2 separate regions of the Homo sapiens genome follow, and region 1 is linked to region 2. The links come from fine-mapping of genetic effects on gene expression. Tissue or cell type: whole blood. Region 2 holds a variant in brackets; the other region holds the start of a gene. All regions are shown on one strand. Distances are between the middles of the regions.

Region 1 (5,131 bases), 96 kb after region 2:
GGTAGATACATCATTTTGAAGTAAAGACTGGAGACTGGGTAGTAGAATGCTCAGAGAATGTGTAATCAGTCCCCTTGTTTCAGAAGAAGAATGAGGCTCAAAGAAGATAAATGACTTGCCCAAGATCCTCCAGCTATACCACAGCAGGGGCAAGGCTACAACTCAGACTCCTAACAACTTGTTCAGTGCTATATCTGCCACGTTAAACCTCTGAAAAGTTATTTATAAACTGAAGTTCTGTAAATAAGTCCTATTTTGAATCTGAGGTTAACCAGACGTGAAAAAATGGTCACTATTCTATAAACCCATTTTTGTAAATAGACAATAGGGATTCATATGTATTAAGTACTGACCACTATTCTAAAAGCTTTCCCTATCATAACACTTAAGCCACACACAGCCATATGAGGTTTGGACTCCATTTTATAAGTGAGTAAACTGAGGCACAGAGAGATTAGGTAACCTGCTTAAGGTCATAAGTGAATTGGTTGGCAAAGCCTAGACCGTGCAATTCCAGAGCTGAAGCTTTTGACTGTTACCCCACACAGAGCTTGCTTAAAATGAGGCAGCAGCTGGACATGCTTTCACATAAATTGCCAAACATGAGCCACGGCTCTGAAAACTGAATAAAAATACACTGGATGTTGGCCTTGCAAGGATTTTCTCTTTAATCTTTAGGGATTAAGTTAAATGAGATAATCAGTTTGGAAAAGATAAAGCATACCACATTGAAGTGCAACGCAAACATTATGCATCTACTATGAAGATAATCTGTACAACCGATAGGTATTACTGTCCCACTTCACCATTGAGGAGACCAAAGTTAGCTTGTATGGGTACCACGAAGCAGAACCAGAATCTGAGTCTGAATCTCGTTTGACTCCCAACTTATCAACCTGCACTACCTCCCTCACTTCCCACCTCAGAGCTAGCTGGTTACCTAGCTACCTGGAACCTGGGGACCTCAGCCATTCCACTACAACATGGTTAGTGAGGTTACAATAATCACCTTGGAAATGATGAATGCTCAGGAGAGAGAACACACAGGTTCATCCAGCCCTGCTTGGTCTTAACGCTTCCCTTCAGGATGGGGCCACGCATAATCCAGAGTGCAGTGCATCAGCCTATAGAGGGCGCTCTTAAGTATCATAGCCAGATGTAAAAGAGCAAAATTCCTATAGGCAAAGAAATGTGGGCTGGGCGTTTTGGAATGCCATTCCTGGAGGGAGGTGTGGGTGAATGATTGCCAATTTTTCCGTTCTAAGCTTATCTTCATAGTTGTGAGCATTTTTCAGGTCCTCAAAAGAGTTAGTATCTAAGTATAAATTTTCTCTTTAAGGTGTTTGCTTAAAGAGGAAACATCTTTAAGAAGTGAAAGCTGAAGAATGGGGCCTAAGATCAAACTTCAAGGTGTTGGTGGCCTAAACGCCTGCCATCAAAGTAACACAACAGAATGATAACTTGGTAAACAGCAGCGAAGCTCAATAGATATTCTTCAAATTGATTTAAGTTGTGATAAAAACCCAACTAATGATTTTAAATATTTCTGTAGCTAGAACAACATAGCAGAAAGACAACATCAAAATATTAACCATGATTACATTCTACATGACTAGATTACAAGGGGTTCTTTGCGACACTCTAATTTTTCTTCAGCGAACTTGTATTGCTTGGGTAATTACACATACACAAAAACCTTACTACTGTTCCTTTTAAAAAATTACTGAATAGAGTTTTTTAAAAAATTGCTAGACGTAGTTTCTTGCGGAAAATAATCAAATTCACGAGATTCTTGAGTCCAAATTTCCTTTATTTAGGTGGCTCCAAATTCTAAAAAAGCTTTTGCCTATAGCCCAATCTCATAGGCAGCATTTGAACAAAACATCCATCCAATGACTAGATCATCCCTTTAAAATCGCAACCTTTACAGTTAAATTCCAGTGGATAGGTCAAGTCATGGAAAAGCTGCAAGATGAGAACAGAAAACTGAGCAGTGCCAATGGGGATTGGAAGCTACCAGGGCTCCAGTATCCCGACTTGGGAAAAAAGAAAATTGGAAAAGGGAATGGAGGGTTGGAGTGCCAAGTATGTGTGAGGAAGAGTAAGAGAGAAGGACCCAGGCCGGGCATGGTAGCTCACGCCTGTAATCCCAGCACTTTGGGGGGCCAAGGAGGGTGGATCACCTGAAGTCAGGATTTCAAGACCAGCCTGGCCAACATGGCAAAATCCCATCTCTACTAAAAATACAAAAATTAGCTGGGCATGGTGGTGGGCGCCTGTAGTCCCAGCTACTTGGGAGGCTGAGGCAGGAGAATGACTTGAACCCGGGAGACGGAGGTTGCAGTGAGCTGAGATTGCACCACTGCACTCCAGCCTGAGCAACAAAGCAAGACTCTGTCTCAAAAAACAACAACAAAAAAAAAAAAAAAAAAAAAGAGAAGGACCGAGAGAAAGATAGACAGAGAGAGAGAGACAGAGAGAGAGAGAGACAGAAAGAGAGAAGTGCAAATCAAAGCAACATGGTACCATGAAAAACCACTCCTGGTCCATTTATTTAACTTCTTCCCTAGCAGCCCTGCTGTGCTCAAACCACTGTGACAGGCTTTCCTTAAGGTGTTAGACAAGAGATAGCACAGAAGAGAGACAAGGCAAAAAATTTAGTACTATTTTCCAGCCTAAACTAAACCTTTATTTTAGTCATGACTTTAAAAAATGTATTTGCGGGAATGACTCAACCCCTTGTTCCACCCCTTGCCTTGTGTATTCCTTCAGTGCCTAAGTTGATATTTGCAGCCACTACCTCACTCAGGATGCTTTGTTTTTATCATTTCAAAATACTCAAGTCCTTGCCCAAGCTGGGCAAAAGTGTCCAGTGGTGTCAAAACAAAGCAAAGCAGACCGGAGAGCCTCCTGCCAGAAAGATGCATTTACCTTCACCAAAAACATCATCCTCTTCATCGACCAGGAGCTCCTCAGCATCAAAAAACTGCATCTTGGAGAGGACAGGCGCGAGAAGCAGCAGGCAGCAGCCCCGGCAGTCTCAGCAGTCACACTGCCGACCGAGGTGATTTCCTTTCCTTGGGTTGCCCAAGCCCTCTGGAGGGCAGCTTCCGCATCTGCCCTGAAGAAAGCAGTTTCATTCATATGAATAGGCTTCTTGAGCCTTGTGAAGAGTGAATCCCAGGTGGGGTAATTCTCACCACTGAGGAGAAAGAATTTTTTGAAGAGGGCTGCAGATCCGGTTGGATATGAATACAGATATCACTCAAAGTCTGAATGCAATGAATTCTATTTCAAAGCAACAACTTTCATATTTCCTTAAAGAGGAAGGTGGGTGCTTAACTTTCTTGCTTATGAATTTGAACACAATGGGTTTTGTTGAAAGAGGGAGTTCATATTTCTCATATCTTGGTTTTGCTTCAATTACAATTTATCTGAAAGTAAAGCAAGCCACTATGTTAAACCAAAGCAGGCATTTAGAGGACAGAGCTTTTATTTTGCTCAGTAATAGTTGCATTTTTCTTTTCTTTTCTTTTCTTTTTTTCAAACCTCTTGCATTTAAGGATTGGAAACTTTACAGCATTTAAACCAAACTGAACCATATCTAGGCTTTATGTGGCTCGATTAAATCTATAGTCAATGAATAGATAACTGGTTTTGGTCAAACATCTTGCATTTCACAATATTTACTCAGTTTGATACTTCAGACTGTATCACTAAAGGAGAAAGAAGAAAATGTAACTCAAAAAGCAGTCCTCCCAAAGGGATGAGTGAACACTGAGCTTCTACGCGAGCACCATTGGCTGGCATCACCATATCGAGCTACCCAACGTGTGCCAAATTCTGTCTGGCTGCACAAACAAACACACATCTCTCTGAGTAATACTGAGACTTCATTTCGGGGTTTCCCAGAGCACTCCACTGTGTTGTAAGATCTCTTAGGTGGCCAGAAGCTTAGAAAATGCAAATGGAGATGACAGTGAGGAGCTGTTGACCCAAGGTGTTTATTTTTGGCACTTTATTTACTGCATGGTTTTGAAGATACTCCCAGTGTTACCCTAGAGAAACTGTCCCCTCCTCCTGTAACTGCAACCTTGAAATTGCACCATTTTCTCCCAGAAGAGACTGTGGACAACAGGGTTGGAGAAATCCAGCAGTGAGAAGGGATCACCCCAGAGGAATTCAGGAATCAGACACTGAGGGTTAACTGAGCAGCAACAGTCAGTTCATCCCTGCATTGGTGGCTGCAGCAGTTCCCAAAGACAGTGTACAGCTTGGGTCCTGCTGGGATCACCAATTGTTGTCAATCAGGGCTGGAACCATCCTTAGAGGAGAGCTTGGAAATGTCTGGGGTGTTTTGGGTGGCACAATGACTGGGGGTTATTACTGGTATTTAATGTCTTAGCACTCAGGGGCCCAGGGATATCAACCTTACCATAATGCATGGAACAGTAGCTCAACAGGAAGAACTGTCCAGCTCCAAATACCAATAATGCCCACCTTGAGACACACTGACAGGCAGAGAACTGGAGTTATCCTTTTCTCTAGCTCTCCTTTGCATCTCCCCTTTCTGACCCTTTTACCACCCCCTACCATGATCCCCACTTGAATGATGTTTCTGGACAAGGGTTGCACTTAGTTACATAAATTAAATTAATTAAAATGGGCCTAGGTGTAGGAAATTTGGATGTGGACTAAAGCTCTCTTTTGTGTGGTTGGGATAAGAGGATGGGTGTCCATTTTGATAATCACTACATTTCTCAACTACTGTCCTATGTCCTTTAATCTCCACAACTTCATGAGGTGGGTGCTATTATCCCATTTTACAGATGAAGCAATGGGGGCTCTGAGGGCTTGAAAAACATTCCTAAGATCAGGCAGCTAGTGAGTGGCAGATTTGACTAATTCCAGAGCTCACTCTGTTACCTCATGTCTGGACAACTTATGGGAGTGACTGCACACAGTCCAGTTCACTGCAGCATCCCCGTGGCTCTTGGGGACCTGCACTACCTCCCTCACCTCCCACCTCAGAACTACCTGGTTACCACGTGAACCTGAGGGCCCTAGCTATTCCACTTCAAAAAGTTAGCATAACCTCTGTAGGCCTGTTTCATTTTAAGTGGGTGGAATT
Region 2 (5,209 bases):
AGATTTTGAGTGTCCTGGTTCACACAGCTAGACGGGACAGGGAAGATTTGGGCTTCTAGCCTCACACTCTCTGGTGTCCACAATTTAAAAAGATTAGCACCAGAGCTTAGAGGCTTTGAATGCTTTATTCTGATTCTGATTCACATTTGACTCCAAGGGGAAAACACTCAGTTTGTGTCTGGGCAGTCCACACATAGCAGCCAATACATATTTAAAATACACACACACACACACACACACTCTCTCTCTCTCTCTGTCTCTCTCTCTTCCCTAATACTTCTGATGACATATAATAAGATTGATCAAATTAGACATATTTAATATCAATGATGTATAACATTTATAAAACCTGTGCTTGTGATATTTTTTTGTTAAAATGTTTCTTATAGCAAGAAGAAAAAAAGTTTAGATTGATGCCTGACTTTGCTACATCCTGTAACAGCTTAAGGTAACAAGTATGCAGAAAAATTTTTGGATAAGAAGTATTTCACAAATTCTATCAAGCTAAAAAATATTAAGGCAGAACAATTTATTTTTATTATTTTTTTTGAGACGGAGTCTCGCACTGCCACCCAGGTTGGAGTGCAGTGGCTCGATCTCAACTCACTGCAACCTCCACCTCCCAGGTTCAAGCCATTCTCCCACCTCAGCCTCCTGAGTAACTAGGACTACAGGCGTACACCACCATGCCTGGCTAATTTTTGTATTTTTAGTAGAGACGGGGTTTCACCATGTTGATCAGGCTGGTCTCGAACTCTGACCTCAAGTGATTCACCCTCCAGCTTCCCAAAGTGCTGGGATTACAGGAGTGAGCCACCACTCCCGGCCTTATTTATTTATTTGAGAGAAGGTCTCGCTCTGTTGCCCAGGCTGGAGTGCTGTGGTACAATCTCAGCTCACCTTGACATCCTGGGTTCAAGCAATCCTCCCACCTCAGCCTCCCGCATAGCTGGGACTACAGGTGTGCACCACCACACCCAACTAACTTTTGTATTTTTAGTAGAGATGGCATTTTGCCATGTTTCCCAGGCTGGTCTTGAACTACTGAGTTCAAGCAGTCCTCTGGCCTTGGCTTCCCAAAGTGCTGGGATTATAGGCATGAGCCATCATGCCTGGCCAAATGTAGGATAATTTAAACATTACATTCATTTAATAAATTTTCTTTGCCATGTCCCCAGATTGCTTATGGGGTAAATTCAAGTTCTCATGTTTTTTTTTTTCCTGGTTTTATTTTGAAAAAGGAAACCCTTCAGGGACAACAACAAACAAAAACTAGCATCTTTCAGGGAGATTTGTGAAGGTTGAAATCATAGCTTGCTGTAACTTGAAAACCCATTTACGTCATATTGTGCCAAGGTAAAGATGAGCGGGCAATCCACCCCCATTTTGGGAAAGTGTGTTTTCTTTCACAGCAATTGATGGAGGTGGGTATGTTCCATTGTGCTTATTTTGCTTTATATGTAGTTATAAATTTGGACCCCAGGCTCTAGTTCTCAAAACATGATTTGGCTGCATGAGGACACCGGACGGTGAAGGTGACAATGTTTCACCTTCATCTGTTGCTTCCAGAGAAGGTCACATTCTCCACCTAGAGACATGCAGTACCAGTGGCAGTCATTGGTCATCCCCTCTTACATTCTACAAGAAATATGCACCATGGGACTTAAACTTGACTTGGATGCGTGCCTTGATGAACTCAATCTCTGGCAAAGACTCACTGGGTTGAAGGAAACATGAAGGGTTGGGAAAGGGAAGCACAACAAAACAAAGGCAGTGGAAGTAAAGTGCAAGCCAGGGAGAACCAGGCCCAAATTTGTCATCCAGTAAGAGTTCTTCAGAAATGTGTATACCTAGTTAATTTGGAATTAATTACATGGGGTCAAGTTGTAGACACTGAACCCTATAAGACACATGTGAGGGCTGGGCATAGTGGCTCACACCTGCAATCCCAGCACTTTGGGAGGCTGAGGCGGGTGGATCACCTGAGGTCAGGAGTTCAAGACCAGCTTGGCCAACATGGTGAAACCCCGTCTCTACTAAAAAAATACAAAAATTAGCCAGGTGTGGTGGCGGGTGCCTGTAGTCCCAGCTACTCCGGAAGCTGAGGCAGGAGAATCGCTTGAACCTGGGAGGTGGAGGTTGTGGTGAGCTGAGATCGCACCACTGCACTCCAGCCTGGGTGACAGAGCAAGACTACGTCTTAAAAAAAAATGTGTACACATGTACTTGTATAAAACACTCTCATACAAAATTTTCCTCTCTATTTATAAAGAGGAAATATAAAGATATTTATTTTCCCTTAAGCAACCCAAAAGAGGTGAATAATATTGACCCTTTTATTGCACTTGACAATAAAAAGGAACTGTAAGCCAACTGGTCACTCATGTGGAGAGTTTTATCTTCCTGGAAATGTGTACCAGGTCCCCTCTGACAGTAACAAAGAACTACTGTATCAGCTGTGACAGGAGAAATATAAGGAGACACTAACTTCAGACTTACCTGTGTTTCTCAGTCTCAGTGTCTGAAAATACTGAGTCAGCACCTCCGCCAACATTACAAACCTCATCACCATCCTCCTCCTCGTCAAAATCAGAGGTGTTCAGGAAATCAAAGCTTTCTAAAGCACTTTCAACTGTGAGACTTAAACTGGAAGACCTGCTGCGGCTTACTGCTGGCTTGCACTGTAAAGGCAGAAGGCACCAGGGAGAACATCAACATATCCGGAAAGAGAAACCAGACACACGATGCTCAATTGGAGATGCCACACTTTTTTTTTTGTTTCAAGTTTTTATTTTTTGTTAGCATTTAAAAAATGCATTTAAAAATCTTTATATCCAAAAAAGAAGTACAACCATGGATAAAATGGCACAATATCTGGGACTGGTTGCAGAAGAATCCAGAGGGAAGTCAGCAGGTTGAAGAATAG[G/A]AAACAAGATTGGCCATGAGTTGATCACTGAGGAGGTTGAGGGATGGGCACACTGGGATCCATTAGAGGATCTTCTCTACTTCTGTTTGAAATTTTTATAACAAAAAGTTGAAAAAAAACAAAAAAAACAAAAAACAAAACCATGTCAACCACAAAGCCTTGGGAAACAGAACTGCTATATCCCTCTGCCTAGTGCTCACCCCAAAATAAAATACCACAAGCAGACAAATTTTAAGTCAGTGAGTCAATGCTGAATACTGACCAATCTCTAATTCCAAGTGGCAATGTCTTCGGTGTTTTACAAAAGGCGCTAGCTATCTAAGGCATCTGCTCTAAAGGACTAACAAAACAAATCCCAGAAACAGGAAGTGGTTCAAATTCACCTAGCCCATGTTCCCTAGGTAAGAAGCCCTGCATCTTTTTTTTTTTTTTTTTTTTTTTTTTTTTTTTGAGACAAGGTCTTGCTCTGTCACTCAGGCTGGAGTGCAGTGGTGTGATCACAGCTCACTGCAGCCTCAATCTCCCGGGCTTAAGCAATCCTCTCACCTTAGCCTCCCAGGTAGCTGAGACCACAGGCATGTGCCACCACACCAGGCTAATTTTTTTCTTTTATTGCAGAGACAGGGTCTCCCTATGTTGACCATACCGGTCTTGAACTCTTGGGCTCCAGCAATCCTGGGCTTCCCAAAGTGTTGGGATTACAGGCATGAGCCACCGCACCTGCTCACAGCATATAATTTTTCCTCTGAGGACTGAGGAAAGAATGAATGCCTTGGGCATGACAAGAAGCAGCCCTGCTTCCTCTGGAGCTCTGCCTCAAAGGGAACAAGTCCCACCACTTCCCTGACCAGGCCCTGGCATCATGGGAGCAATCCCATTCTCTGGCCTGGAGCATTCTATAATGCTGGCCACATGCAGAAACATTACAAGCAAAACAATGCCAGTTGCTATGGGCACAGAGTTGGAGAGAAGTATTTCCAAATATTCAAGAGGATGCTGGGGTGGGTCGAATGGGACAAATTCTGCAAGTTAGAAGCACTAAATGTCCTCCATCCAGTTAGGTGACACTCCTTGCTGATTTCTTAGCGCAAGGTAGGAAGGGCCTTGCAGGGATCTGTCTCTGACACTCAAGATGGCACAAAAGCACATGGGAAAACGTCTTTCGGTCTTTTAAATCACAGTTGTCTCATTCACCCTCAGTGATCTCCGTCCAAGAGGCAGCACCATTTAGTTTCTGATCGTCAAGGTGTTTAGCATCCTAGGAATGTGAAGGAGGGAGAAAAGAGAAAGCTTTGTCCAGCTGATGCTTTAATTCTGGCTGGATACAAAGCCATTTGCCCCAGACCTAAACACACTCACTAGTGATGTTTTCAGCAGTCTCAGGGGGAGACAGGGAGTCGGTCTTGACTTCACCTACTTCTAGGGTCTTTTTTCCTAAGCAAGGTGTCTGCACAATTTTATCTTGTACAGTACAGATGTGTTTAAATATTGGTCATGACAAAGAAAGGGGCAGTTGAGGATTTTAGTAGCAGGACAATTTTGGAACAACAGCAGACTGAAATAATACTCTGGAAAGAAGTCTCTGATCACCAGTTTTTAATAATGCTTAGTGTTTCCTGTGGATTGAGCTACTTACCATCACCCTAGATGCCTGGAATGGGAGCTGCTATCACTACTGGATTTCTCTAAGGAATTCACTTTAGATGGCATCAATTTGTGTCTTAGCTCTTTGAAATGAATACCTTTTGCCCACAAAGCAAAGCTGGTCAACTTTGCAGAAAAGATAGGTGTTTAGTAGAATACCAGACAAGCAGCCTGCATATACAAGCCCTGAGCTGATGGTTTTGAACTGATATTTTACAGAAAGTAGATTCAGAGTGCCCTTCTGTTTCTCGGAGGCTATGCCATCAACTGAACTATCTGTCATGAGCATTTGAGGACCTGGAGAGTCAGGACCTGAATTATCATCTGCCTGGGGCACAAATCTCCTACAGAGTTAGGTCAGCAAGACTGAGTAGAGAAGGATAAGATGGTCAAAAAGCCTTGGAAATGTAGTTTCAGATGCCACTGGGCAGGCTACATATAAAAACAATCACCATATTTTTTTTTTTTTTTTTTGAGACAGGGTCTCACTTTTTCACCCAGGCTGGAGTGCAGTGACGTGATCTCGGCTCACTACAACCTCTGCCTCCTTGGCTCAAGCGATTCTTCCACCTCAGCCTCCCTAGTAGTTGGGACTACAGGTGTGTGCCACCATGCCCAGCTAATTTTTGTATTTTTTGT

Evidence for each region. PIP is the estimated chance that this variant, and not a neighbour inherited with it, causes the effect.
Region 1: it holds the start of RIPOR2, and the variant in region 2 is fine-mapped to the expression of RIPOR2 in whole blood (TOPMed, PIP above 0.99).

The regions. Positions count from the first base shown.
Region 1 is chr6:24,932,907-24,938,037 of GRCh38, forward strand. It overlaps RIPOR2 (RHO family interacting cell polarization regulator 2), which reads right to left and starts at 3,054. Exons shown (of 22, transcript NM_001286445.3): 1 at 2,932-3,054. The coding sequence starts at 2,992. LOC105374981 (a long non-coding RNA gene) reads left to right here and starts at 1,069. Exons shown (of 3, transcript XR_007059514.1): 1 at 1,069-1,158; 2 at 1,340-1,464. RefSeq lists an enhancer at 3,767-3,936.
Region 2 is chr6:24,836,592-24,841,800 of GRCh38, forward strand. RIPOR2 (RHO family interacting cell polarization regulator 2) reads right to left here. Exons shown (of 22, transcript NM_001286445.3): 14 at 2,500-2,681. Among named protein-coding and RNA genes, the nearest start is that of ARMH2, 40 kb to the left of the region's middle. The variant G/A (reference allele first, on the strand shown) is at 2,927.